Linked DNA regions of Homo sapiens: region 2 is linked to region 1. The links come from fine-mapping of genetic effects on gene expression. A gene starts in region 1. The other region holds a variant in brackets. All regions are shown on one strand. Distances are between the middles of the regions.

Region 1 (13,156 bases):
ATGGATGGATGGATGGATGGATGGCTGGATGGATGGACAGATTGACAGATGAAGGACACAGCTGAAGGGGTGGGGGGATAGATGGGTGGGTTCTAGAGAAATGATGAGAGACCCTGCTGAGGACAGGGACAGGATCTTGCAGGGGTGTTGTGGCAGAAGTGATGGGCAGGGCTGGGTAGGGATAGACTGCTCACTGCAGGGCTAGCTACAGGCAGGCGACAGACAGATGGACCCATGTGTGGACGGACGGATGGAGGGGGAACGGAGGGAGTGAGCAGGGGCCCACTGGGACTGGTTGATGAAGATGGATGGACAGACAGAGGGAAACAGGGCAGGAAGGGGAATGGGAATGGGGGAGGGAAGACCATGTCCTGTCCCGAGGTGGTCCCTACAGAGCCCCTGAGACCTGGCCATTAGGAAAGTGTATGCAAGTTTGCCTGGAAAGGTGTGTGTGTGTGTGTGTGTGTGTGCACAGGCATCTGTGAGAGCTCTGGCGTGGCTGTGTTCCTGGCACTTCCTGGTGTGTGTGTAGCCTTGTGAGGGCCCAGGCCTGGTGATGGGCGTGGAAATAGGGGCCCGGAGGAGTGTAAGCTCTCTCCTCTTCCCTCAGGGGCTGAGGGCATCCTGGTGGGTTTATCCAGGGAGCATGGCAGCCAGGGAGCCTGGGACAGATTTCTGGTGAATGGGGGACTTGTGTGTTAGTGCCTGCAGGGAGGGGAAGGGGCTAGAGTCAGACTGGGAAGTTCTCAGAGACAGAAAACAAACAGAGGGGCTTCCCTGACCCCTTCCTCCTTTCCTCCTTTCCTCCTTTCCTCCCTTCTTCCTTCCAAGCCTCCACGCAGGCCTGCAGCCAAACTGTCAGGACTCAGGAAGGGGGTGACACCTGGCAGGTACTCTGCCAGCCTGGGGCCCCCAAATATGGTGTCAATGATAAAAATAATCCTAGCTGACATTTACGGAGTACTTGCCATGTGCCAGGCACGTTGCCAGGTTTTTCAGGATCCCATGTCTTCCCACAAGGTGGGTATTGTTTTATTTTTATCCCCACTTGACCCGGAAGAAGAGCTCAGGGCAGTGAAGCACCTCATCCGAAACTCCCAGTAAGTGGTGGCCGTGGGAAGCCAGAAATTTGCCCTCGGCCCCTGGCGAACAACAACTTGATCTTCCTCTGCACATCTGCCCAGGGGACACGGGTTGTCAGGCTGACCCTCAGAACACAGTGCAAGGAGGAGAGGAGGGTAAGAGAAAAGATGGCAGTGATGTCCAGAGGCCACATGGTTAGCTGAGTGGCATCAGGGCCTTTAGAGCCCAACGGCTTGGATTCAGAGGCTGACTTTGCCACTTCCTTGTGCAACGTCGAGCAGGTCACTTCACTTGTGTAAGCCTCAGTTTCCTTGTCTGTGAAATGGGGAGTGTGCTGCTCACAGAGGCTATTGGGAGGATAAAATAAGATAATACAGGAAAAGTACCTGGCAGGTTGGAAGGCCCCAGGGTCACAGAGGAGGATCCTGGGAGTCAGGTAAGGGCACTTCCTGGGGGCCCCTGGGCACCAGTCGCCCCACCTTCTGCAGAAGCGGGAATCCCCCATTTGTCATTGTCTCTGGATTGTATCCTGGGCTTCTGGGCATGACGTCATGCTCTGTGCTTGGCAAATAGTAACTTGTGCCATCGTCATACTGCTCTAAGAGGCCGAGCTACTGTCATCTCTCAATGCACTGATGAGGAGAGGGAGGGAAAGACAGCAGTGACTAGCCTAGATCACGCAGTGTAAGCTTTCATCACTGGTCAGCTGGGAAGCCACTATGTTTATTTGCTCATTCATTTAACAAATTTGTAGGACAGACTAGGGGGTGGGGACGGTTCATGACTCACAGAGCAGCAGCAACCCCGGCCCTTCTCCTGGAGCTCACACACGAATGGGGGTGGTGTGAGCAGGGGGAGACAGACAATAGACAAACGAACGGTAATCTCTGGAGTGTGGCAGCTGGTGGTGGTAATTGCTATGGAGAAAAATACAGCAAGGAAGGGGGACAGGGAGTCCAGAGGTGGAGTGGGGTGAGAGGCTGCTATATTTTATTTTATTTTATTTTATTTTATATTTTATTTTATTTTATTTTATTTTATTTTATTTATTTTATTTTATTTTATTTTGAGACAGAGTCGCTGGGATTACAGGCATGCTCCACCACGCCCGGCTAATTTTGTATTTTTAGTAGAGATGTGGTTTCTCCACGTTGGTCAGGCTGGTCTCGAACTCCCAACCTCAGGTGATCTGCCTGCTTTGGCCTCCCAAAGTGCTGGGATTACAGACGTGAGCCACCGCACCTGGCCTGAGGCTGCTATTTTAAATACGGTGGTTAGGACATGTGGCAGACATGAGCTGAACTTCAAACAGAGATCTGAAGGAGGCGAGGGAGCCAGCCCTGAAAATTTGGGGGCAGGGGCACAAACTGATCCAGGCAGAGGGGACAGTACGTGTAAGAGCACTGAGGCAGGCCTGGCCTATTTTTCAAAAAAAATTTTTTTTTTGAGATGGAGTTTCGCTCTTGTTGCCCAGGCTGGAGTGCAATGGTGCGATCTCGGCTCACTGGAGTGCAATGGCGCGATCTCAGCTCACTGCAAACTCTGCCTCCCGGGTTCAAGCTATTCTCCTGCCTCAGCCTCCTTGAGTAGCTGGGATTACAGGTGCACGCCACCTCGCCTGGCTAATTATTTTTAGTAGAGACGGGGTTTCACCATGTTGGCCAGACTGGTCTCGAGCTCCTAACTTCAGGTGATCTGCCCCCCTCAGCCTCCCAAAGTGCTGGGATTACAGGCATGAGCCACCGCGCCCAGCTGGCTATTTCTATTACTTCAAATTTACTTATCCCAAAGGTCGTGAGGAAGCACCTTCCATTCAGCTGACAGCCTTTGGGTCTGCAATGGAGGAGCGATGGGCTATCTTTTTCTTTTTTTCTTTCTTCTTTTTTTTTTTTTGGAGATGGAGCTTCGCTCTTGTTATTGCCCAGGCAAGAGTGCAATGACGCTATCTCGGCTCACTGCAACCTCCACCTCCCAGGTTCAAGAGATTCCCCTGCCTCAGCCTCCAGAGTAGCTAGGATTACAGACATGCGCCACCATGCGCGGCTAATTTCGTATTTTCAGTAGAGACGGAGTTTCTCTAGTTTGGTCAAGCTGGTCTCGAACTCCTGACTGCAGGTGATCCGCCCGCCTAGGCCTCCCAAAGTGCTGGGATTACAGGCGTGAGCTCCCGCGCCCGGCCCCCTTTTTCTTTATTTTATTTTTATTTTTTCACACACATCCCGTAGGATGAGATGCTTTTTGATTTTTTAAAAGACACCTAGTTGAAGACTGGCACTCAGAGGCCGGAGAAAAGCCTGTGGTTCCGATGGTTAGGGAAAGGCTTTGGGGGTCGAAGCTGAGTTGGGAGAGAGGAGGATGTGGCCGAATGGGGAAGGCAAGGCCGAGCAGAATGAGGGGCGCCCTCAGGGAGTCGGGGATGTTGGAAGGGGGCTGTAAATACAGGCGGGAGGTGGGCGGAACCCGCCCAAGCTACCGGGTGGCCGCCTCCCCAGTGCGGACCCAGGCTGAGGCCCCGCCCTGCCCGGAGGCTCCGCCCGCATCCAGGCCCCGCGGGCAGGATCTACCAAGAACCCACATCAAAGGCTCCCAGGAAGCGCGAGCGAGCCCCAAAGGAAGTGGCGCAGCCTCTAATCCAGCTCTGGGGGTGGGGGAAGCCCCGCAATTATTGGGGGGCTTCCTCCCGCGCTACCCCCTTTAAAACCCGGGAGCCCACATTTAAGTCTCCCCACCCCCACCTCAAATTGCCTCCTTGTTGGGGGTGAGGCTGTGTTCAGTAAAACTATTATTCAGACGAGTTTCACCCCAAAACCTCACCTGAACAGCTGAACAGTCTCTCTTTGCGGCTGCACCTGGGGAGTGTGTTCTTTTGAAAAAGATGGGGCCCTAGTTACCGCATGTTTGTGCAACACACACGTTTACTGGGCACCACTGTATGCCCGGCACCATGGGGGACGGCAAGATGGAATAAAACCGGGTCTCTGTCCTTCAGGGAGCCCCCTGCCTAAAGAGGAGGGAGTGAGAGCTGGGGTTTGTCCCGGGAGGAATTATTTATTTGGCCTGGGGGAGCCCTGTCTATTCTTCAGAAGTGACTTTTGATTGATTGTAAAGGTAGCAATAGCTAAGATTCAATGCGCATTGACTGTGTGCCCAGCACTGAGCAAAGGGCATTAGATACATGATGATCTCACTGAGTCCCAGCAGCAGCCCTGAAGGGTGGAAACCAGGATTATTGCACCCGCATGGCTCCACCAAGGCCACACAGTGGGTTACATGGAAGAATCCAGGTCTGCTGGACCCAGTGTTCATTCATTCACCAAATCTGTGTTGGGCGCACACTATAGACCAGGCACTCTCCTACCCTTTGGCAATCCGTTCTCCTGTGTTATGTATGCCAAGGCAGGTCTAGTAGGAGCTGCCCAGATGGAAGGGGCATCCAGGGAGAGGGCACAGCTGGGACAAAGGCATGAAAGTCCAGGAAGTGTTCAAAAAAGAGCAGGTCTACTCGGCTCTGGGGTAGACACACTTAACTTTTTAGTTCCACCTCTGCCATGTACCAGCTGTGTAATTTTAGTCATTTCTTCTCTCTGAGCCTCACGTTGTTTCTGCAAAAATGGAGGCAATATTAGCTTTTCCTTCCAGGGCTAGAGAGGATTAAATGAGTTTACAGAGGTGAAGTGGCCTGGCATAGAGCAGGCCTTCAAGAAATGTGGATTGAAATGAACAGAGGGGTCTGGGTGTGGTGGCTCACGCCTGTAATCCCAGCACTTTGGGAGGGTGATGGAGACCATCCTGGCTAACATGCTGAAACCCCGTCTCTACTAAAAATACAAAAATCTGGGCGTGGTGCCGCGTGCCTGTAGTCCCAGCTACTCGGGAGGCTGAGGCAGGAGAATCACTTGAACCCAGGAGGTGGAGGTTGCAGTGAGCCGAGATCGAACCTCTGCACTCCAGCCTGGCAACAGAAGGAGACTCTGTCTAAAAAATAAATAAATAAAAAATAAAAAAAAGAAATGAATGGAGGGGGCTGGGCGTGCTGGCTCACGCCTGTAATCCCAGCACTTTGGGAGGCCGAGGTGGGAGGATCACTTGAGGTCAGAGGTTCAAGACCAGCCTGGCCAACGTGGTGAAACCCCATCTCCACTAAAAAATACAAAAATGAACTGTGCATGGTGGTGTGTGCCTGTAATCCCAGCAACTAGGGAAGCTGAGGCAGGAGAATCCCTTGAACCCGGGAGGTGGAGGTTGCAGTGAGCCGAGGTTGCGCCACTGCATTCCAGCCTCGGTGACAGAGCAAGACTCCGTCTAAAAAAAAAGGAAATGAATGGAGGAAACTAATTTAGAATGTCACCATCAAATGTGAGCATCTAAGGCCAAGCACAGTGGCTTACGCCTGTAATCCCAGCACTTTAGGAGGCCGAGGAGGGCGGATCATGAGGTCAGGAGTTCAAGACCAGCCTGACCAACATGGTGAAACCCTGTCTCTACTAAAAATACAAAAATTAGCCAGGTGTGGTGGCGTGCACCTGTAATCCCAGATACTCAGGAGGCTGAGGCAGGAGAATCACTTGAACCCGGGAGGTGGAGGTTGCAGTGAGCTGAGATTGCGCCACTGCACTCCAGCCTGGGGGACAGAGCAAGACTCTGTCTCAAAAAAAAAAAAAAAAAAAAAATTAGCATCTATTGAGCAGAATGTGTGGGGAACTGTTCTACCTGTTGCTGGATTCATACCCTGCCTCTGAGGGATTTACAGTCTAGTTGAGAAGATAGTTCAGAGGCTTTGAAAAACAAAAAAGAGTTCAGTTGGTTGAGAGCAGGGTGCTGGTAGGCATGTAGCATGGAGGCCCCTGGGGCTCTAGGGGGGGCCTGATCCCTGGGGGTTTCACCCAAGAGGTAGTAATTAGACTGACCTTAAAGATCCCAGCTGCGGAGAGTTGGCACATTCCAGGACGGGGCACTGCTCTCCAGGTTCAGTGGAATTCAGAGGCAATGGTTGAGGCAGGTACCCATGAGAGTGCGCGCTGGATCTAGCCTGTCTGGGCCAGAATGCCAGCTCCAAATTTTACTTCCAAATTTGCTCTTCTGCAAAATGTGGGCAGGAGCAGTGGCCACCTCCCTGAAGGTGTCATGAGAACTAAGTGGATCAGTACAGATAAGTGCCTAGAACTGGGCCCGGCACATAGTAGTGCTTCATAAGTATTGGCTACAGTTTTTTTCTTTGCTTTTCTTTTTTTAAAAAAATTTTGTTTTGAAACAGGGTCTCACTTGGTTGCCTAGGCTGGAGTGCAGTGGTGCAATCACGGCTCATTGCAGCCTTGACCTCCTAGGCTCAAGCAATCCTCCTTCCTCAGCCGCCCGAGTAGCTGAGGCCACGGGTGCTCACCACCATGCCCAGCTAATTTTTTTTCTTTTTTCTTTTGTAGAGATGGGGTCTCACTGTATTGCCCAGGCCGCATTATTTTTTTTCTGATGCTCTTGGCCAAAGGCAGGCACAGATCAAAGGTGGGGTAAGTGAGGCCATGGCTTCAGCATTCACCTTTGTCATCTCCTTGCCCCCAGTACCCAGCCCCAGCTAAGTCCTAGCAAAGGTGGGCCCCTAAGCAGGCTGGTGGGCCGGAGGCAGGGATTGGCAGGAGAGGCAGTCACACACAAACACACACTCACTCGGGCTCCACCTGCCTGTACAGGAGCCTTGTCTGCTGCAGTGGCGCTGAGGCCCTGAGGGCTCCTTGGGGCCTTTATGGGGTAATTCCATCTCCATTAGGGCTGATTATGTCACTATAAATACCGCGTTTTGGTGCCGCTTTATAAGACTCACTGAAGAACTTTCCTCCTTAGCACCCAGTCACCTAGAGCGGGAAAGACTCTGAGTCGGACAGGAAAAGAGGGAAGGGTGTGTCATTAAATGGGTGACTAAAAGCCAGGGAAAAGCCAGGTGGAACACCCTCTTGCCACCACCTGACATACCACTCCTTTCCATAGGCCTCTGTTCACGTCACATGCTGCAGATGAGCAACACCCTGCCCTATGCTCTCAGCCCCCAACTTGTGCACATACTGCTGGGCACACGCCCCACAGCCATCAGGGCCTGCCTGCACCCCTGCCGTGTGTGTGCTTGGATTCAACCTTTTGAGGCCACACATGGAAACCCACACTTGCCACCAGAAGGACCAACCAACACTACACACAGAGACTTTCACGCAACACAGAACTCGCAACACTGTCATTCACTCATTAGTTCATTCATTCAGCGGAGGCTTGCTGAATATCTAGTATGTATCAGGCACTGTCTGTTTTCTTTTTTTGTTTTTGGCTCTCGCTCTGTCACCCAGGCTGGAGTGCAGTGCCGCGGTCTCGGCTCACTGCAACCTCCACCTCCTGGGTTCAAGCGACTTTCCTGCCTCCAACTCGAGCAGCTGGGATTACGGGCATGCGCCACCACGCCCGGCTAATTTTTGTATTTTTAGTAGAGACGGGGTTTCACCATGATGACAAGCTTGGTCTCAAACTCCTGACCTCAAGTGATCTATCTGCCTCGGCCTCCCAAAGTGCTGGGATTACAGGCGTGAGCCACCGCGCCTGGCCCAGGCACTGTCTGTTTTCTACAAACATCCCTGTCCTCCTGCAGTGTGTCCTCTAGTGACACATCTGACAGATGGAGCCTGCAAGTGGCATGTAACACACATGTACAAGCAGTGGCTTCCACACAACTCACATGGAGTCTTACACACGCCAGTGTCCCTAGCCCAGAGGCTCCAATACAACATGCAAAACACTTATCCAAACCACGTACTACACACATGCTCACACTCATCCACACACCCCATGTGCCTGTCCACAGAGCCCTGGGCACAACACATGCCCTGCTCTCCACGGATGTGGCTTCCTGTTGCTGAACCGCATGTAACCCAGTAACAGCTGAGATTTCATGCGTGCTTTCTGTAGTCCTGGCCCCTGTGGTTTACATGCATGACTTTATTTGATCTTTACAGTAACTCTCCTAAATAGGCTTTACATCTTTCCAGGAGCAAACTGAGGCTCAGAAAAGTGAAATAACTTGTTCAGAAACTCATGGGCTGACTCCACATCTACTGTGAAGTATGGCACACTCACAAATACATGCATACACAAATCCACACTCACATGCACTCATACACAAATCTCTCACACCCACATGCACACTCATACACACATCTAGACACATCCACACAATCCACAAAAACACACACAGACACACACTCATACCCAAATCCTCTCATGCCCATGCACACACACTTATACACACATATACCAACACTTTTTTCTTTTTTTTTTTGAGACAGAGTCTTGCTGGCCCAGGCTGGAGTGCAGTGAGTGGCGCAATCTCGGCTCACTGCAATCTCTGCCTCTGGGGTTCAAGTGATTCTCCTGCCTTAGCCTCCTTAGTAGATGGGATTACAGGTGAGTGGCACCACGCCCAGCTAATTTTTTTGTATTTTTAGTAGAGACGGGGTTTCACCATGTTGGCCAGGCATGTCTGGAGCTCCTGACCTCAAATGATCTGCCTGCCTCGGCCTCCCAAAGTGCTGGAATTACAGGCCTGAGCCACCCTGCCCAGTCACATACAACACTTATGTCCATACACACACTCACACACAGTCATACATACATCAACACTCTCATGTCTATACACACGAATGCACATTCAACAAAATCTCACACCCTCATACACATGCACTTATTCTCACAGGCACTTGCACACTCACAGGCTCTCAGAGGACCAAGGCTCTCCTCCCATCCTCTTGGTCAAAGGCTTTAATTATCCCCAACGCCTGTAATTAACCCTTCCTCTCTTCCTGCAGGAGAGATGTCTGGACCCGCTTCCCAAGAGTAGGCACCAAGGCGAGAGGCCAAGATGTCCACATCCGGCAGAGAAGACCCACGTACCTGGGTAGCAGGTCCCGGGCATCAAAGCGAGGATGGGGTCAGAGAGGAAGAGGTAGGCAAAGGGAGTCTGGGGCCTCCCAGGAAATCAGGCCTGCCACAGTTGCTCTTCCTGGACTGGTCAAATGGTGATTGGCCAACAGGCAGCCGTGGGTGGCTGGGCAGGCGGGCCAGAGCAAATTTCCCGTTTGTTTCACTCACACTAGCCGCTTCTGTCAGGAAGGGAGATGAGCTCATGTCTGAGGAAGTTTTGTGAAGAGGCCTTATCAAGGGGCAGGTGGTAGGCAGGTGTCCTCCAAACTGTCAAAACCTATCAACCCATGCCAGGGTCGGGGGCCAGGGGTGCCCCTTGCCCCCTTCCCCAAAAAGAAGCAGTGGTTCAAGCAGAGACCACCAGGATTCAAATCCTGCTTCTACTACCCGTGAGCTGTGCACCCTTTGGGCATGTTGTTTCTGCTCTTGGAGCCTCAGTCTCCTCTTCTGTAACATGGGGATGATGACCCCTGCCTCCCAGATGAGAATTATTAATAAATAAGATAGTGCATGTCTGATCCATTCCCAGAGGAAATGAACCTATTCTCAGATCATAGTAGGCTTATAGGCTTCTGAACAGAGATACTCTTTTTGACCATCAGCAGCTTGATATACTCTTCAAGGGTTTTAGGAAGGAGGGCATCCAGGTCTATTTCTGGGCCACTCTCTCAGGCCTGCTGCTTAGGAGGCAACTGCTTATTGGACCCCCAATCCATTTCAGCTCAGACCTTCAGGCCAGCGTTGAGCTCAGTCGCATTGAGCTCAGTCTCAGAGGTGAAGGGCAGAATGGGTATGGCTCAGCGCAAAACCATTAAACGTTTCCACCGAGGATACCAGGCTCAGAGATCCCTGGGGGCTAATCCGTAGGGGCGCTGGCGCTTTGAGACGCTCAAACTTTGGAAGGCCTGCGGGGAGCCCGCGAGTCCAGAGGGCCCCAAGGTCCTCCTCCAAACCCCTCCGGACTTCCCCTCCCTCTCCTCCGGGTGCCAGCCCGGCCCCTTTAAAGACATTCCTGAGGGCGGGCGTTGGTGACGTCACGCAGGGCATGAATGAACAGGAGTCGGTTCTCACCCAACTTCCATTAAGGACTCGGGGCAGGAGGGGCAGAAGTTGCGCGCAGGCCGGCGGGCGGGAGCGGACACCGAGGCCGGCGTGCAGGCGTGCGGGTGTGCGGGAGCCGGGCTCGGGGGGATCGGACCGAGAGCGAGAAGCGCGGCATGGAGCTCCAGGCAGCCCGCGCCTGCTTCGCCCTGCTGTGGGGCTGTGCGCTGGCCGCGGCCGCGGCGGCGCAGGGCAAGGAAGGTGAGTGCGCGCGGCGTCTGGACCCCTGGCCCCCGGGCCCCAGTGCCCCCTAGAGCCCGGCGCTCCTTGACGCGCGCAACTTTGGAACCTACCTGGTGTCGCCCAGTCCCGGCGAACTGGAGTCCGGAGGGCGCACGGGCTGCGATCGAGGCGAGCCCTGGCCCCCACCCGGGGTCATAGGGGCTCCGGAGAATAAGCGGTTTCAGCTTGGTCGCACGGGCCTCGGAGGCTGCGGAGAAGAGGACGCGGCGCAGGCCACGCGGTTGCAGTCCAGGCGGCGACTTCGGGAACGCGTCCCGGCGGGGGGCGTGGGGAGTCCCCTAGAGAAGGGGGTGTTTGGGCAGCTTTCCGCGGGCTCAGCTTCTTAGTGACCTGAATTCACTAACCCGCTTGCCGAGGTTTTGCGGAGAAGGCATACTGTGCAGGCCTCGCATTTTGGGGAGGGGGCTCGGGCGGGCGGGAGCCCCCTGTCGAAGCCCCTGTTCCCTGAGATTTTCTCCACGCCCCCCTTCACCTCCAGTCCCGGGGGAGAGCGTGGAGATAGGTTCGGGCCAATCCCTGCTCACACACTCCTTTCCCTCCTTCCCAAGCCGCACTCCCGGGCTCCCGGGGCAGGTTAGGGGCCGCGAGTGCGGACAGGAAGTCCCAAAGTCAAGCGTTCTGAGCAAGGGTGACTCAGAACGAGGAAATGCGGCAGGTGGGGGTGCGGCCTCCCAAGGTGTGGAGCTGTCAGCCCAGGGCCACCAGGGAGTCAGGACACCCGGGGGTGGGGGACTGAATCACCCACCCCCGCCCCAGTGTTCCCGGAGCCGCGCCGAGTGAGGGGCCGCAGACTTTGCTCATGGCGCAGCGGGTGCGTGGTGGGGGTGTTGTCCCTCCGCTAGGGTCAGGGCGAGGATGGGGGCTCCTGCCCTGGCCGAAGACCTTCCTGTCCACCCAGCCCAGGCCAGCTTCAATTTCCAACAGTGAGGGCAAGGCTTCCCCTCCTGCCTGGGCAGAGCGAGGTTTCCGCAGGCTCCACAAGGGGGAAGCCGGGAGGAAACTTGGGCCGGTGAGAAGTTTCCTTCTTTTTTTTTTTTTTTTTTTTTTTTGAGACGGAGTTTCGCACTTGTTGCCCAGACTGGAGTGCAATGGCGCAATCTCGGCTCACTGCAACCTCTGCCTCCCGGGTTCAAGCTATTCTCCTGTCTCAAGCCTCCCTAGTAGCTGGGATTACAGGTGCCCGCCACCAGGCGCGTCTAATTTTTGCATCTTTTAGTGGAGACGAGGTTTCACCATGTTGGCCAGGCTGATTCTGAACTCCTGACCTCAGGTGATCCACCCGCCGCGGCCTCCCAAAGTGCTGCGATTACAGGCATGAGCCACCACCCCCGGCCTGTTTCCTTCTTTTTCTGCCTCCCAAACTGGGTTTGGAGGTTTTGCTGTTCTGTGTTGGGAGGAAAAGAGGCCGGATCTGGAGCCGTTGGGCAGTGGCAGGTGTTGGGGGTGGCATCCTGTCTCAGTCTCTGGAGTGACAGGGCCCGGGTTGGGGTCTCAACCGGGACTTCTGGTTGCAGGAGCTCATGGCAAGGATTTCTGCCACCCTCAATATCCGCCCCACCAACGTTTGGTCCTCCCCCTTCCTGGGGGACTGTGGTTGGAGAGAAGGGGAGAGACAGCTGGAATCACTATAGGCCTTTCTCCTCGGCTGCCCATGGGGGGGTGGGGGATTAGGCGGGTGCTTTGCTGCTGCAGTCCCCAAGCTGGCCTGGAAGCCTGGAGCTGCCTTGTCCTTGTCCCCTGTGTCCACCTCTCCCCAGCCTGTGTGATTAAACCCCACCCCCACACCCCATGGGATGCAGGGGGAAAGGCTTGTGTATTGCACTGGGGTGGGGGTACATTTTTGCTTCGACTCTGAGTCCCCGTGAAAGAGTCCCTAGAGAAGTGTGCCTAGGTGGGGGTGGGCATGATGGCCTAGCTGGCAGCTGCTGGTTTCAGTTCCTGGGAATCAGGCTGTATGTGGTGGGTCTGCCTGGGGGTGGCTTAGGGGGCAGGCAGGAGGACACAGGTGCCTTTTTCACCTACCCCCAGGCTGCTTCAGACTTCTTTCTTGCCCCCTCACCCCTAGGCTATACTTGGTTGCCCACGTGGCTCCTGTTAGGTCATCAACAGCCACTGAATCTGCCCTCATTTTTACAAATGGGGAAACTGAGGGAGGCCCGAGCCCTTGCCAACCAGGGCCTTCTGGACAGAGGACCAGACCTGAGCATCCCGCTTCTTGGCTGCCAGAGCCAAGGCCCTGCCTGCTTTGTGGTTGGTGTCATGGTAGATTTTCCTGGGAAGCAGGCATAGCTGGGCAGGGGCCTGGGCGGGTGGCAGGGGGTGCTGAGCTGGGGTGCTGCTGATGGGAAGAGGGCTGGAGAGTGCCAGGAAGTCCTTGGTTTCTGGTTCTACCGGGGCCAAGTCTGCCCTCTGTCCCCTTTCCCTTTTCTTTCATGTTTTCCCCAGAGTCCCCACCTCCCTGCTTCCTTTAGGGATTAGCTAGTCTTGGTTAGAGAGGAATGGGGGAAGCGGGGAGGGAACCACAGCCTCGGAGGCTGCGGAGAAGGACCGGAGACCGGGAGTGGGTGGCAGTCCTGCATTTGTGGAAGAAGCTGTGGAGCAATGTGGACCCACAAAGATGGCACTTACGGTGGAACTCATGGCAAAGAAGGAGGTGTTTTTTGCTTTTTTTTTTTCCCCCCAGAAATGGGAAGGTAAGGGGATAGAGAGCTCATGGATAAGCCCTGCTTAGCCTAAGCCTCTCCAGGAAGCCGTCTGGGTCAGCCGAGGGGCTCCC
Region 2 (15,388 bases), 18 kb before region 1:
TGCCCTGGAGTCCGCTGAGGCCTGGATTGGGAAGAGATAGGACCGAGAGGCCCAGGGGCCCTCCCTGCTTCCCCACCAGGCTTCAGCCCCTCAGCCAGGCCCTGCTGATGCCTCTGCTCTCCCTTGCCTGGGTGTGGTGTGTGGTGATGAAATTGGTGGAGGCTGAGCCCCAGATCCTATTATCCCCTCCAGGGTGTGACAAGTGTCTGTGACTGGCCCTGCTGGGACCTCCCCCAACTGGATCCTGAAGACAGGGGGTGCTCCTGAACCCATTCCGTATTCTTGACCCCCCTCTGGGCAGCGGGATCCTTCAGACCAGATTCCATGGAGGCCCTAAGCTGTGCCCCGTGGCAGAGTGGCCCTGATACCTCCCAAAGAAGAGTGACAGCAAGTGGTGTCACATAGACCTGCCTCAATGCTCGTCTACACCTGCCCCTTCAGGGTGGGGCAAAACAAGGCTCTGCAGACAGCAAGTGGGGACATGCCCTGAGAGGCTGTGCTGCTTGGCTGAGGTGGTGGCTGGCAGCACTGGTCATGCAGAGCCTTGGTGGCACCATGGACTCAGCCCACAGCTGGCTCGGACTCCTGGATCCGGTGGCTTCTGGGGTCTGGGCAGGTGGTGGGAGGTTCGGGGGGCACCTGGAGCTAAGTACCTGTACACTGGCTGTGGGGAGCTGCAGGGCAGGACAGGGTTCCCACACACCCTTTTCCCAAACAGGTGCCTCCCTCCGACACCCACACTGCGTCTACTGTTTTCCAGGAAAAGGCCGATGCACTCGTTGAGTCAGCAGATCGAGGCTGCTGTCACCCTGGCAGCTCCACAGGGTGAGCCTGTTGCTCGCAGGGCCCAGCAGGGCCTGCCCAGGAGTCCCAGAGCTGGCCGGGCTCCCGTTACCTGCCCTGTACCATTGTTCCTGCCTGGCGCTTGGCTCTGCCTCTCTGGCTGTCCTCTCCTTCTCCACCCTCTGGCCTAAACATTACCTTATGCCCAAACCCAGCCTCTCTCCAGTTCCACAAATGTCAAACTGGCTCATCCCTGGGGGTAGGAATCAGCAAGAGAAGACCTGGATTGGAATTCCAGGACCACACTGACTGGCTGTGTGGCCTTGGGCAAGTTCCTTTACCTCTCTGAGCCTCCGTTTCTTCATCAATGAGAGGCAAGTTGTCCTCCCACCATGTCATGCTGTTGAAAGGAATCAAGTGCCCAGCGCAGTGCCCGGCCTGCAGGACGTGCTCAAGAAATGGCTTTTGCAGAACACGACAGAGTCTTCCCCAGCGGGACCTGTTCTCCCAGGGCCTGTGGGGAAGGAAATGGCGGGATCTTCTGCTCAGCCATCTTACATTAATCAGCATGCAGTCATCATGTTCACACCAGCTCTAATTGTTAGCTGCTGAAATGGGCTCGAGCTTTGGGGCTCTCACCTCAGCCAGCCCGGGGCTCCAGGCTTGGGCGGAGCTGGTGCATGGAGCAGGTCTGGGGCTCCTGGCATGAATGAAGCCTGAAATGTGGACAGGTGCAGTCGGGATGTGGGAGAACCCAGCCTTGGGCAAGTCCCTTTACCTTTACTCAAAGAGGGGAGTGGGTGAGGCTGCCCGGGGTGGGGGGCACTGGCCGGGCACCTGCAGGTGGGGAGGCCTGGCCATCTCTGGAGCAGCTCCGGTGATGAACTCTGGTCAAAGAACTCGTCCTAGAGGGTTTGTCCCACACCTGCTTCTGGTCTTAGCACGTGACCCCTGCTCCAGATAGGTCCTTCTTGTTTGTTTTGGGCTTGAGAGGAATTAATGAAATTGTTAGGGTAATTGGCAGCACGGCGGGCACCATCCAAGACTGGCAAAGGGGGGCTGGGAGGACCGAGAGGAGAGAGCCGGGCACACGGGGATTGCTTAACAGATGACGGTGAAGAGGGAGGGGTGTGTAAGTGGCGGATGGCATGTAGGAGCGAATCAGTGAATGAACAGTGAGTGAGTGAGTGACTCAATGAACGCGTAAGCTGGAACCTCAGTAATAGCATTGGCCAACACTCATGTAGTTCTCACTACATGTGCAACGTCGTTCTAAGCACTTCACTTGTAAAACTCATTCAGTCCTCTCAAAAACCCTGTGAAGGAGGCACTATGATTACCTCTGTATTTTTTTTTTTTTTTTTTGAGTCTCACTCTGTTGCCCAGGCTGGAGTGCAGTGGCGAGATGTCAGCTCACTGCAACCTCCGCCTCCCGGGTTCAAGCAATTCTCGTGCCTTAGCCTCCCGAGTAGCTGGGATTACAGGTGCCTGCCCCCGACACCCGGCTGATTTTTGTGTTTTTAGTAGAGACAGGGTTTCACCATGTTGGGCAGGCTGGTCTTGAACTCCTGACCTCAAGTGATTCGTCTGCCTTGGCCTCCCAAAGTGCTGGGATTACAGGCGTGAGCCACCACGCCCGGCCGATGACTACACTTTACAGAGAAGGGACCAGAGGCACAGAGAGGTTAAGTAACTTGTCCAAAGTTACACAGCTGGGAAGTGACTGAGTTCAGACTAGAACCCCGGCAGGCTGGCTCCGTAGTCTCCAGGTACCAAGCACCTTCAGGATCATGAAGAGAGTTCAGAGCAGAGGGGATAGGAGGATGGACTCTTCTTTTGCAGTCTCGGCCTTGAGACTCCAGGCTTCATGTCATTCAGTCTGTCATTCATTCATGCTGCATAGTCGCTGGTCAGCCGCTTACTCACTCATGCACTCACTGAGCGCCGGCTCTGGGAGTGTGAAGGGGGGAGACTTGTAAGATTCTGTCCTCCCCGGTCCTAGTTTACCTTTCAGGGCTCAGTTCAATGCCACCTCCTCCAGGAAGGCCACAGGGCTCTAGGCTTCCCCTGATCTCCCCAGCTAGGCAGTGCTTATATTCTCAGTTTTTGGAATACCATGGGTGCTCAATAAATGCTTGAGGCGGCATCCTGTTGCTGCTGAGCCTTCTCCTGGGGTCTCGTGGCTTTCCCAGCTCTTTGTCCCTTCCTGTCCTCACCCCAGCCAGGATGCTCCCGTATCTGGACAGAGCCTGGATCCCCCCACACCTCCCATGACCTTCCCATCCCACCAGCGGAGTGGAAACTCCCCGAGCACTGGGTCCAGCCGGGGGCCATGGTCAGCAGCACTGGGATTCACCCCTGCCCTGAAAGGGAGGGACCTGGGCCCGCCCGGGCTCAGCAGCCAACAGCAGCCTCTTCCTTCCCTGGCGAAGTGTTTGTTTTCAAATTCCTGAGGCCTGTGTCACCCCCAACCCTGTGTCCGCTGGCCCAGGCTGCCTCTGCTTCCTTCCTCCCCTTGCCGGACCAGGCTGATCTGTGGGGTGGGGTGCTGGGCCAAGCCTCTCCCTCCCATTGCCCACCAGCTAGGGCCAGAGCCTCGAGCTGGCTGACTGGAGAGCTCCAGAGGTTGGTAGGACATGGGATAAGGGAACTCAGGACCCCTCATCCCAGCCCCTCTGGATAGAGCAGGGAAATTCCAAGTCTTTTTGCTCTTCAGGGAACAGTGCAGGCTGGCAAAGAATCATGGGCTGGTAGCCGGAAGTAGCTATCTTCATCCCAGCTATCTTCTGGGTTAGCTGGGATGGGGAAGTTCTGAGCAGGGCACATGCCCCTAAGCAGGCCTGGTCTGGGCCCAGAAGGCCTGGTGCAGGTCAGACTTCATTCAAGCTCTCTTCCTGGCCGGGAGTCTTTTTTTTTTTTTGAGACGGAGTCCCGCTCTGTTGCCCAGGATGCAGTGCAGCGGCGCGATCTCGGCTCACTGCAACCTCCACCTCCTGGGATTACAGGCGCCCACCACCACACCTAGCTAATTTTTGTATTTTTAGTAGAGACGGGGTTTCACTCTGTAGGCCCGGCTGGTCTCGAACTCCTGACCTCAAGTGATCTGCCCGCCTTGGCCTCCCAAAAGAGCTGGGATTACAGGCATAAGACTTTGCATCCAGCCAGCGCTGGGAGTCTTGAACAACTAGGGCAGTGGGGTGGGTTTCAAACTTGACCTCATGTGCATCAGAATCAGCTGGGGTGTGTGGTGAACGGGCAGACGCCCAAGCCCTGGCCTCGGAGATTCTGATTCAGTGGGTCTGGGATCCCAGGGATCTGAAGTTTTGGCTTCCCAGGTGATTCTGCTGCCAGAGGCCCAAACTGTGGAAAGCCAACACTCAAGAACGTGAATAACACACAGCCAGGCCCAGCTCTCCCACTCACATGCTGCTGACCTTTTAGAGCTGCACTGGCCAGTTCGGTAGGTACTATTTAAATCTAGAGGCCGGGCGCAGTAGCTCATGCCTGTAATCCCAGCATTTTGGGATCCAAGGTGGGTGGATCTCTTGAGGTCAGGAGTTCGAGACCAGACTAGGCAACATGGTGAAACCCCATCTCTACAAAAAGCACGCAAAAAATTAGCTGGGTGTGGTGGTGTACACCTGTAGTCCTGGCTACTCAGGAGGCTGAGGTAGGAGGCTGGCTTGAGCCCAGAAGGCAGAGGTTGCAGTGAGCTGTGATTGCGCCACCGTACTCCAGCCTGAGTGACAGAGCGAGACTCTGTCTCAAATAAACAAATAATTAATTTAAATTAATTAAAATGAAATAAAATTAAAGTCAGCTCTTCAGGTGCACCAGACGCATCTCAAGTGCTCAGTAGCCGCGTGCGGCCAGTGCGGAGCAGATGTAAAACGTTTCTATCCATTCATCATTCCATCCACAGCAAGTTCTTCTAGACTGCTGTTCTCCAATGTCAGTTTCACAGAGGCAGAGACCTTTGTCTGCTGTGTTCATTGCTATATCCACAGCATCTGACTCATGCCTAAAACACAACAGGGGACCAGTAAATCTTTTTTTTTTTTTTTTTTGAGATGGAGTCTCACTCTGTCACCCACCCAGTCTAGAGTGCAATGGCACAATCTCGGCTCACTGCAACCTCCACCTCCCGGGCTCAAGTGATTCTCCTGCCTTACCCTCCCGAGTAGCTGCACCACGGTGTGCAGCACCACGCCTGACTAATTTTTGTATTTTTAGTAGAGACGGGGTTTCACCATGTTGGCCAGGCTGGTCTCGAACTCCTGACCTCAAGTGATCTGCCTGCCTCAGCCTCCCAAAGTGCTGGGATTATAGGTGTGAGCCACCATGTCCGGCCCAGTAAATCTTTTTCATTTGTGTTTTTATGGTGGTAACATATATGTAACATAAAATCGACCATGTTAAGCGTTTGGAAGTGTACAGGTCGGTGGCATTAAGTGCATTCACATTGCTGTGCAACTTTTCGCCACCGTCCATCTGCAGAACTTTTTCATCATCCCAAACTGAAACTCTACTCAACAAAAGTTCCCCATCAATCAATGTTTTCTGAACAAATGAATAACCTTGGCTGGGCGCGGGGCTTACGCCTGTAATCACAGCACTTTGGGAGGCCGAGGAGGGCGGATCACCTGAAGTCACGAGTTTGAGACCAGCCAGGCCAACATGTTGAAACCTTGTCTCTATTAAAAAAAAGTACAAAAATTAGCCAGGCGTGGTGGTGGGCGCCTGTAATCCCAGCTACTCAGGAGGCTGAGGCAGGAGAATCACTTGAACTCAGAAGGTGGAGGTTGCAGTGAGCCAAGATTGCACCACTGCACCCCAGCCTGGGCGACAAGAGTGAGACTCTGTCTAAAAAAATAAAATAATAATAATAATAATAATAAAAAAAAAACCTTGGTCAAATCACTTCCACTCTCTGGGCTTCTGGGCTTCAGGTTCTTCATTTACAAAACGGGTAGCACATGCGTTCCCACCCGGCAAGTTCTTTGCAAGGATTAAATAAGATGAAGCATGTGTTTAGCACAAGCCCTGGCACACAGCAAGTGCTCATCAAATATTAGCTGTTCCTGTGTTATTATTACCTCATCAGGAAGTCTTCCCTGAACATTCCACACCTCCTTGTTTTCTAAACTCTGCAAGACTAGAGCGCACCTCATTCAAGGCAACAGAAACAGAGTCCGCTGCTGCCGGTGTGAATCACGTGGGCGCGTTCTGTCTCCAGGGCGTGAACTGTTGCTGGTCCTTTGTGTGTCAGCTAGCCTAGTTCCTCAGCTAGCCAAGGTTCCCCAGCCCCGATATCCCGCAACAACCCCCTGAGATGGGGAAAGGAGTTGGAAGGAACCCTTATGTGGGTGCCATTGTACAGATGGGAACGCTGAGGCCCATGGTACCGAGGAAGCCAGTGCCAGAGCCAGGACTCAAAGCAGGCATCCCGACTCCAGTATCCTTCAAAAACACCACCCAGCACAGGGGAGCCGCTAACTGAAGGAATGGGTGGATGGATGAATTAAAGTAGTCAGGCTGAAGGGCCCCATTTTGCAGCTTTGAAGAAACAGGCTCAGGGAGGTTAAGTGAGGCGCTGGGTAAATATTTATGGAATTGATCATACGTGGTCAGAGGGCAGGGCACGCTAGCCAGGGGCTCTGAACCTGTAGTACC[T/C]TTAATCCCTGCCCCCAAGGGACAATCAGGACAGTTTCTTGCCCTGGACAGGAAGTTGTCATGATGGGGTAGAAAGAGACGCTAACTCTTGGCCTCGTGAGGGAAGGAAGGCATTTCTTTGGCTTTGGTGTCAGACAGGCTCAGATCCATCACAGGTCCTGAGACACAGGAGGAGTCTTGCTAAGCTCTTAAACTTTCTAAGCTCCAGACCCTTCTGAGACGCTATAAATGCTGTGGCCTCCAGCCAGTGGTGAGCTGGTAAATGTTTAACAACCTGCTTTCTAAAAGGAAAAGAGAAAAAAAAATGAAAAGGGTAAAAAGAAGGCCAGGTGTGGTGGCTCACGCCTGTAATCCCAGCACTTTGGGAGGCTGAGGCAGGTGGATCACTTGAGGTCAGGAGTTCGAGACCAGACTGGCCAACATGGTGTAACCCCGTCTCTACTAAAAATAAAAAAAATCAGTCAGGCATGGTGGTGGGCACCTGTAATCCCAGGTACTTGGGAGGCTGAGGCATGAGAATTGCTTGAACCCGGGAGGCTGAGGTTGCAGTGAGCCGAGATTGAACCACTGCACTCCAGCCTGGGCGACAGAGTGAGACTCTGTCTCAAAAAAAAAAAAAAAAAAAAGGAAAAAGAAGAGTGTCACTGCTGATTGCTGTGGTGTAAATACTCCCACTACAGTTGACTTCAAGCAACCAATGAAACTTGGCTTGCAAAATGCATGAAAATGGAACAATCTACTCTCCCTGAGCCTGCAAGAGCCAACTGGGCGAGCACACCACTCAGTGTAAACTCAGGCAAATGCTTCCTCTTTCTGTGCCTCATTTTCCCTATCTGTAAAGTGGGTGGTAATGGCTGCTACCTTCAAGGCTCTTATAAGGAGTCATTTCCATGTTCCAAACTAGAGGTGGCAGGATCTTCAGGGACTGGTGAGGACAGGAGAAGGTCACATTTTGCAGCCCTTGGAGGTGTGTCAGGGGATGGCAGAAATAGGGCTGGTGCCTCACCCTTCATAGGCTCCTGGGAGCATGTCTTTCTTTCCCTACCAGCAGAGGTGACCATGTGGCTCCCTGCCCTTCTCTTTGGGCCACTTTCAGAAGCCAGGCAGTGGGGAGGTCGGAGTAGCCAGGTGCTGGTGACAGAGTTTGCCCAAATCTGGAAAGACAGTCTCCCGTGTCCCCACCTTACTAATCCCGCACACTTACCCTGACTTTACTCCTGGGGCTGTGGGAGACAGGGGTGGAATGGGCCCCTGACACGCAGGCAGCCCCTCCTATCCCTGCATGAATCCTGGCATGACCCCGGACACCCAAGAAAGTGCACCTTTGACAATGGTGCACCAGGTCATGGTGGCACCTCTCCCCTTGGTGGTGGCATCTGGGGCCCTTGCACACAGGGGACAAGGAACCTGAAGTGAAGGGGAGTTGACCTATTGAGGCCACACTGAGGACAGTCCCTCTCACTTTGGGAGAGGAGATGGCACTCCTGGTCTGATGTTCCAGAATTCCTCTCCATGGAAGGAGAGGAGAACACCATAACATATTAGAGCAGAGAGGGGATCCGCGGCAAAGGCAAGGCTTCTGTTACAAAGATGGGGAAACTGAGGCCAGCCAGTGGAAAAGTCATATTCACAGTCACACAAGGACTCAGACGTCGAGCTAGGACCTGGGCCCAGTGCATGGGTGGCCAGTCTCTCTTCTGTATCTCCTGACCTTGTGATCTGCCCACCTCGGCCTCCCAAAGTGCTAGGATTACAGGCATGAGCCACTGTGCCTGCGAGTCTCTCTTCTCTCTTCTCTACTGCCTGGCAGAAGGGGCTGAAAGGTGGGGGCCCAAAAGCTTGTCTGTCCTGGGGGAGGGGTGACCAGCCAAGGCAGGACATTTTCCAGGGGGACCCTTGTGCTGGGTGACCACCTTAGGGGAGGGCACATCACTTCCTAGGAAGCAGACCACCCCTCTGAAAGACGCAGGGACCTGAGAAGTGTGGTGACTGTGGGTTTGGGGGTGTCAGTAATGTCACTTGGGAGTGGGGGACCTGGGTCGGCCTGGCTTTGCCCCTAACCCTCCGTGCGGTGTTGAGCAGGCCATGGTCCCCTCCTCGGCGCCAGTCTCTGGCTGTAGATGGGTGGTTTGGGCCAGACCAGTGTTTTAAAACTTGTCTCAAGCTGCAGAATTATTTTCTAGATGCTTAGTAGAGAAAACAGACACAGGAAGGGCAGATGCAGGGGCAGTGGGAGCTTGGAGGAGGAGGATGGAGGAGGATGGAGCATTTGGGTCCTGGAGCCTCCGCTGCTAGACACCCCCTCCCTCCCCTGGAGCGGCAGACCCCCGACATAGGGCCGTGGCACGCCTGGGGATTTTATGGCAGGGGCCCAGGCCACACCCCGAGGGAGGAAGTCTGGTACCTCTCCTGACTCCTGAAAGCTGCGGAAAAAGAAATAGAGAAAGAGACAGAGAAATCAAGAGATAGGAAAACAAAGAAAGAATGAGAGAGAGAGAGAGAGAGACAGAGGCAGGGACAAATAGAGGAAGACAGAGAGAAAAACAGAGAAAGGGAGGTACAAAAAAGAGAAATATTCCATGATGAGATGGAGAGAGATAGGGAGAGAGGGAAGGGGGAGAAAAAAGAAACACATGTTTCCACTCAAAGTTCTTTTTTGTTTAAAATAAAACCAACCCAACAATCTCTGCTGCTGACAGTTGGCCGGAGCCCAGGCCCCAGGCGGAGTGTGACCGCGGGCCTCCTGGCACCCGGCCTGGAAACTCAAGTCATCACCGCCTGGGCTTTGCTCTCCGCAGCCTCTGACACGGTGACTTGTCCCCAGACACTGGCTCAGGTCTGAGGGTCACAGGAGAGACCCCCGCACAGGCAGGGCCCCTGAAGCCTCTCCCAGGTCCCCTGAGGCTCCTACCCACTACGGGAGCCTTTTAGCAATTCTAGGCTGGGAGCAACCAGCCACCATGAGGCCCGAAGCAGAGGGCCAGGCAGGGAACTGTGGCCAGGAGGAGGGCCTGCCTGAGCAGCGACAGGAGCAAGCTCGGCTTTAATTTGAGACCTAATCAGCGGGGGCTGGCATCCACCCCCCCTCCCCAACCAGTTGCGGAGGCCCCTCCGTTCCTGCTCTGGAGAGACACATCCCGGCCCCTGCTGCCCCAGGCCCAGGGCCCCTGAGGTGGGGACTGTGGAGGGTGGGATGGGAGGAAGAGCAGGCCCACAGGAGTCATAGGCCTTGCCTCCCAGCACACCTGCCAGGCCCGCACCGAGCCCCATCCCACCCCCTCCCACCCCCTCACATATATTTTACACTCAGTCCCAAGATTTGTTCTGGCCTAAGCCCCACATACCCAGGCAAGAAAGAAGCTGGTCTAATAGCAGCTGCAATTGTAGAGCACACAGGGCCCCAGGGCCTGCCGCGTGCTGAGTGCATCATCTCATTCAAGCATCCCGCATCCCGAGCGACTCTAATGTCCACTTTACAGATCATGAAACTGAGGCTCCGAGGGCTTAAAACACTTGCCCAAGTCTCATGATGAGTAGAAGGTGGGATCTGAACCCAGGTTTGCTCGCCCACCATAGCTCCACACCCGGAGGTAGTGGGGAGCTTCTGGGGTATGGGGCCAGCCCCGGCACCCCAGGGCCCATGGAGGGAGTGCGGCCCACCCCTCAGGCCCAGGCTTCCGTCCCTTCCGGAGCTGAGAGAGGCAGGCCTGAGAACAGCTGATCCCCCGGGTTTTGTTCTTGGCACAAAGGCGCCCGGATCCAGGCTTAGCAGTGAATGGCGAGGGGCCCACAGCCCCCTCCCTCGGGCAGGCCTGGCAGGCTCAGCCCCTGCCTGCTTCCCCGCAGCCCATGAGCCCTCAGCTTCCTATTCAGAACCCCGGCTCGGCCACCCACAGGAGTATCAAAGGCTGGCAGATCTGTGGGGATTAAAGGAGGCAGTGAGGGGCTGAGAGCTGGGGGCACGCATATGTGACTCCCCTTTTCCGAGAACCTACTATGTGCTGGGTAGATAATAATGGGAAAGACCAGAGAGGGGAGGGGACTCGCCCAAGGTCACACAGCAAGTCAGACAGAATCAGGGTGCAAATCCAGATGGCCCTGCTCCCAGCCAAGGCCTGTTTTCATCAGACAAGTTTCTTCTGTGCTTGGGACACCCCTGTCCTGTGGCCTCTTCCTGGGATGAAGAGACAGAGAGAAAAAGACAAAGGCAGACAGAGAGAGGAGAACCTGGCCAGGCCAACACAGAGGGAGGGAGGATTCCCTGGGGGAGGCTCCTCCCCTGACTGCCTGATGGGGTTGCTGAGGGCCAGGGCTGGAAGGATGCAGGTCCTGGCCTCCCTCCCTGCCCCATCCCCCGTAAATGCCTGGTTGGCTTGAGGGGCAGAGGACGGGCAGGGTTCCCCACTTGGATGGAGCTCCAGGAAGTGGGGAGACGGAGCCCCGAGCAGGAGAACTGTGGAGCCTCCTGCACCAGGTCTGGCCCTGGCTGGTGGGAGTAGAATCTGGGAGTCCTCACCGACCTGGGGTGCAGACTTGCCCAGGGGATGGGAGAGTGCGGGTCTGGCTAGTGAGGCTCTGGGTGGATGGAGAGGAGGGCAGGCATGATGGGCACTCAGCCCCTGGGGCCTATACCTGCTGTGTGGCCTAGGGGAGGTGCAACTGCCTCTCTGGGCTTCAGCCCCATTCTAGGGCCCAGAGCCAGAAGACCCCCTGATTCTATTACAGGGGTGAGGGTCTGCTTCACGGAATCCTCACGGTGAGGCAGGCTGATGCTGAGCCCCAGACGGGCGCACTCTCGTTCAGTCCTCCCCATAAGCCCACCAGAAGGCTACCGCTATTCTCCCTTCACCTTACAGGTGAGGAAACTGAGGCTCAGAGAGGCCTTGTTCAAGTCACATGGCTGGTACAGATTTCAAAGCCTCATGACCTCACTCCATCCCCCTGCCCCAGGACACTGGGCCCTGACTCCTGGCTCCCTTCTACCTGTGGCAAGGTAACAGAGGCAGGTGTCTACCTGCCCCCCACCTGCCCCCCAGTCACAGGCACGGTGCCACGGCACCCCCCAGGAATGTTGCTGCATTCCTGTGGCAGGGGTGTGGTTGCCGTGGCTCTGTTTGCCCGAGGCCTGGGCTGTTCCTAAAGCAAGCCCTATCCCCAGGCGCTGAGTCAGCAGGCTGGGCAGCTCTGGCACTCCCAGCAGAGCCCGACCCTCACCAGGAAGGTGGTGGCAGGACCAGAGGAGGAAGCTCCATTTCCCATGAAGGAGGGAGGGGTGCCTGGGGCAGGAGTGGGACAAAGGCTGGGAGTAGTGGGGGAAGTCAGGCCCAGGGGTCCAGAGAGGGGAAGGGAGATCCCCCAGAGAAGCTGGGGAGCTGAGTGAGGATTTCAGACCTGAAGGAAGGCGACTGCTTCGCTGAGCACTGTCTGTGTGCCAGTCCCTGTGTCGCTGCTTTGTCCAGCCGCCTTATCTCATATAATAAAACTGACTCACTCTCCTCAGCCTCTGTCTTTCATAAGGGGAACCTGAGGTGTGGTTAGTTCTTCCGCAAAAGAAGGACACAGACAGGCCTGTGACGCTCAGAAAGGCGCTGTATGCCCCAGTGGGAATGGTGGGGACGCAACTCCCCCACCCCTCCTCTGCCAGGCCGGCTCTATGAGCCTGGACTCCTGCTCTGGGCCTCAGTTTCCAAGCTCTGCTGGGGTTGGCCGAGAGGAAGAGGCCCCGTGAACTCCTCCTCAGGGCTGATACCCTTCAAGTGACCTCGGCTGGCCTCACCCACTCGGGGCCAGACATTGATCTCCTAGCAATCCGAAGGTGGAGGGTGCCTCCATGCTCAGATTCCTTTTTCTTTTTTTTTTTTTTTTTTTTTGAGATGGAGTCTTGCTGTTGTTGGCCCCAGCTGGAGTGCAATGGCGTGATCCTGGCTCACTGCAACCTCCACCTCCCGGGTTCCAGCAATTCTCCTGCCTCAGCCTCCCGAGTAGCTGGGATTACAGGCGCCCACCACCACGTCCAGCTAATTTTTGTGTTTTTAGTAGAGACGGGGTTTCACCATGTTGGCTAGGCTGCTCTCGATCTCCTGACCTCATGATCTGCCTGCCTTGGCCTCCCAAAGTGCTGAGATTACAAGGGTGAGCCACCATGCCCAACCAGATTCCTTTTTCATTATGGGCCATGCCCTTGGCCTGCCGCCCTCACTCCACTCCATCCCCTGCCACTTAGAGATGCCGAGGCATAAGGCAAAGAAAGGCACACCCCAGGAGAAACAGTAGGGTGGAGGGCCCAGGGCCAGGAGGGGCTAGGGACGGAGGGGGCCTGGGTTGTTGGCCTCCTGGTGCCAGCTCTGCTCCCTTCTGGGTCTTCCCAGGAACGGAATAGGCAGGTTTGGGGCACTGGATGCCAGGTTGGGAAGACGGGTGGAGCCGGGTGGGGCATGGGGGTCAGGAGGCTGGGAGTTTCGATGGCGGGTTTTGGCGGTTTTTGATAAGAGAACCAAGGGGTGGTCAGAGTCCGTGGGAGACAGGGCTGAATGGGGTGGGGTGGGAGGGGGCAGTGATCCAATTCCTGGCCAGCCAAGCGCTTCTGCCCCACTGTCCAGGGCCTCTGCCCAAGTCTCAGGACCAGCTGCTCCCGGCCGTGGCTGCCCTTGCAGGTTTACAGTGGGGGAGACTCCAATAGATGACATGGATCTGGGGACTCGGGGCTGAGAGGCAGTGTCTGTTGTGCTAATGCCCCTCCCTCGGAGACATTCACCGTAGAGCTGCTGGACTGAGCTGAGGTCCCAGTCTGATGGGGGAAGGTCACCTCTGCCCCGGGAATATCCCACAGCCTCTGCCCTCAGGGAGCTCCTAGTCTGATAGCAGAGGCCTGGCCTCTGTCCTGCTGAAGCCTCCACTCTCATGGGGAAGCCACAGCCTCTGCCCTCTGAGGAGGGGACATATACTCCATTTCCGGAAGAGCCCTCCAGTCTGCTAGAGGAGTCACCACCTCTTATCTTCGGGAAGTTTGTGATCTGAAGGCAGAGGCGGGCAGACGTAGCACTGACTCGCAGGGCTGCCCAGGGCCTGGGCCCTTCACCTGCTGGGCCTGCTGAGGCCAACTTGGAGGTGAGGAAGGCAGGGCAGGGCAGGGCCCAGAGATCCCTACTCCTCCCAGGGATCAGCCTAGGGTCAGGCTTGGGCGAGGTCTGGCCCGGCTGCCCTGACTGGGGGGTGGTCTCTGCAGACGGGCCCCGAGGCACATTCTCAAGCTATGGCATGAGGCAGTTCTGCTGGGCAAAACAGTTATTACCGCCCGTCGCTGGCGAGACAGGGAGGGTCTATTACAGGGTTGGAGCTGCAGGCAGCCCCCCCCCCTTCACTCCACCCCACCCACCATGCACACACACCTGCACACACACACCCCCATGGGCAGACTCACTAGTTGCATGATTTTCAACGAATCCCTTCACTTCCCCATGCCTCAGTTTCTTCATCTGTAAAAGGAGGATAATAACACGGGCTTGCCTGGACACGTGACACCTGTGTATGCCAGGGCCTCCGTCCCCTACCCAGTTCCATTGCTCAGGACATACACACTGTCAGACGTGGACACATATACGACCCTGAACATTCACCTGGGAACTCACATGCAATGTGCACCCATGTCCTGGCTTGCACGCCTTCACCCAAGTGCACACACACCTGTATAAGAAGTTAGAGGGGCTGGGGGTGGCGGCTCCTGCCTGTCATCCCACCACTTAGAGATGCCGAGGCAGAAGGATTGTTTGAGCCCAGGATTTCGAGACCAGCCTGGGCAATACAGGGAGACCCTGTCTCCACAGAAACATTTTTAAGATGAGCTGGGTGTGGTGGTGCACATCTATGGTCCAAACTACTCGGGAGACTGAGGTGGGAGGTTCGCTTGAACCCGGGAGTTCAAGGCTGCAGTGAGCTGTGATGGAGCCACTGCACTCTAACCTGGGCAACAGAGTGAGACTATGTCTCCAAAGGAAAAAAAAAAAAAAGGGTGGAGGATTGGGGCAAAGACCGCAGGACCCCAAAGGGAGCTCTCATACCCCCTCCACCAGCAGCATTCTATCTCTGGGGCAGCCTCCCACATCTACAGGCTCAGTGCCCCTTCCTTGCCCCCTCTCCCGGGGAAATGCCAGGTTAACAAGGGGAGTACAAGCATGTGAGAGCCACATAGATCTGGCTTCAAATCCCAACTCTGCCCCTGAGTCTCAGTTTCCTCATTTGTAAAATGTGGAGATGAATAGTCTTTGGGAGATCATGAGGCAGCGGGTAGGGGTGGACTCCGTGAGACGACCTATGTCAAGTGTGTTGCTTATAAAGTGCCTAGGAAATAGTAAGTGCTCACTAAATGCTGCTTGGATTGACTTGGGAAGGCAGGACCTCTCTGGAGTGTGGAAGAAAACAGATAGTTACCAGGTGTCTTCAACAAATTTGTTATGTCCCAGGGCCTGAGCTGAGTACTGGTCCTCAGATCAAAAACAAAGCAAAAGCAAACCAAGGCCTGCTCCATCCCTTCCCTGAAGATGCTTGCCCAATACTGGAAACTTGTCAACAACCAGTTTCAAGTCAGCGTGAAATATGTTGGGAGACACAGAAAGGCAGGAGGGCACGGGTCAAAGAATAGGGTTGCCACTCGTCAGGGGGTAATCTTGTCAAGTGACTTTCCTTCTTTAAGCCTCGGTTTCCCTCTCCATGTAATGGGCGTGAAATAACCACCTCCCTGCACTGTTGTTCACATTCACGAGGTTTTGGGCACATGGCCCGGCATAGTGGCTCATGCTTGAAATCCCAGCACTTTGGGAGGCCGAGGCGGGCAGATCATTTGGGGTCAGGAGTTCGAGACCAGCCTGGCCAAAATGGCGAAAACTCATCTCTACTAAAAATACAAAAATCAGCTGGGCATGGTGGCGCATGCCTG

Direction of the effects. Positions count from the first base shown, and alleles are read on the strand shown. Sizes are in standard deviations (SD) of each study's normalised expression.
For the expression in liver of the gene that starts at base 10,117 in region 1, T is the high allele of the variant in region 2 and C is the other (small effect, 0.39 SD a copy in GTEx).

Evidence for each region. PIP is the estimated chance that this variant, and not a neighbour inherited with it, causes the effect. A credible set is the group of variants that fine-mapping cannot tell apart.
Region 2: its variant is the best candidate, but not a certain one, in a credible set for the expression of EPHA2 in liver (GTEx, PIP 0.54).

The regions. Positions count from the first base shown.
Region 1 is chr1:16,153,030-16,166,185 of GRCh38, reverse strand. EPHA2 (EPH receptor A2) reads left to right here and starts at 10,117. Exons shown (of 17, transcript NM_004431.5): 1 at 10,117-10,338. The coding sequence starts at 10,254. It overlaps EPHA2-AS1 (EPHA2 antisense RNA 1), which reads right to left and starts at 10,971. Exons shown (of 3, transcript NR_187275.1): 1 at 10,431-10,971; 2 at 9,007-9,215; 3 at 1-1,430. RefSeq lists enhancers at 136-1,076, 2,029-2,556, 2,557-3,084, 3,085-3,612, 3,458-3,752 and 2 more.
Region 2 is chr1:16,169,894-16,185,281 of GRCh38, reverse strand. No RefSeq gene overlaps it. Among named protein-coding and RNA genes, the nearest start is that of EPHA2, 22 kb to the right of the region's middle. RefSeq lists enhancers at 1-490, 491-992, 1,083-1,582, 2,410-3,390 and a silencer at 9,054-9,348. The variant T/C (reference allele first, on the strand shown) is at 6,457.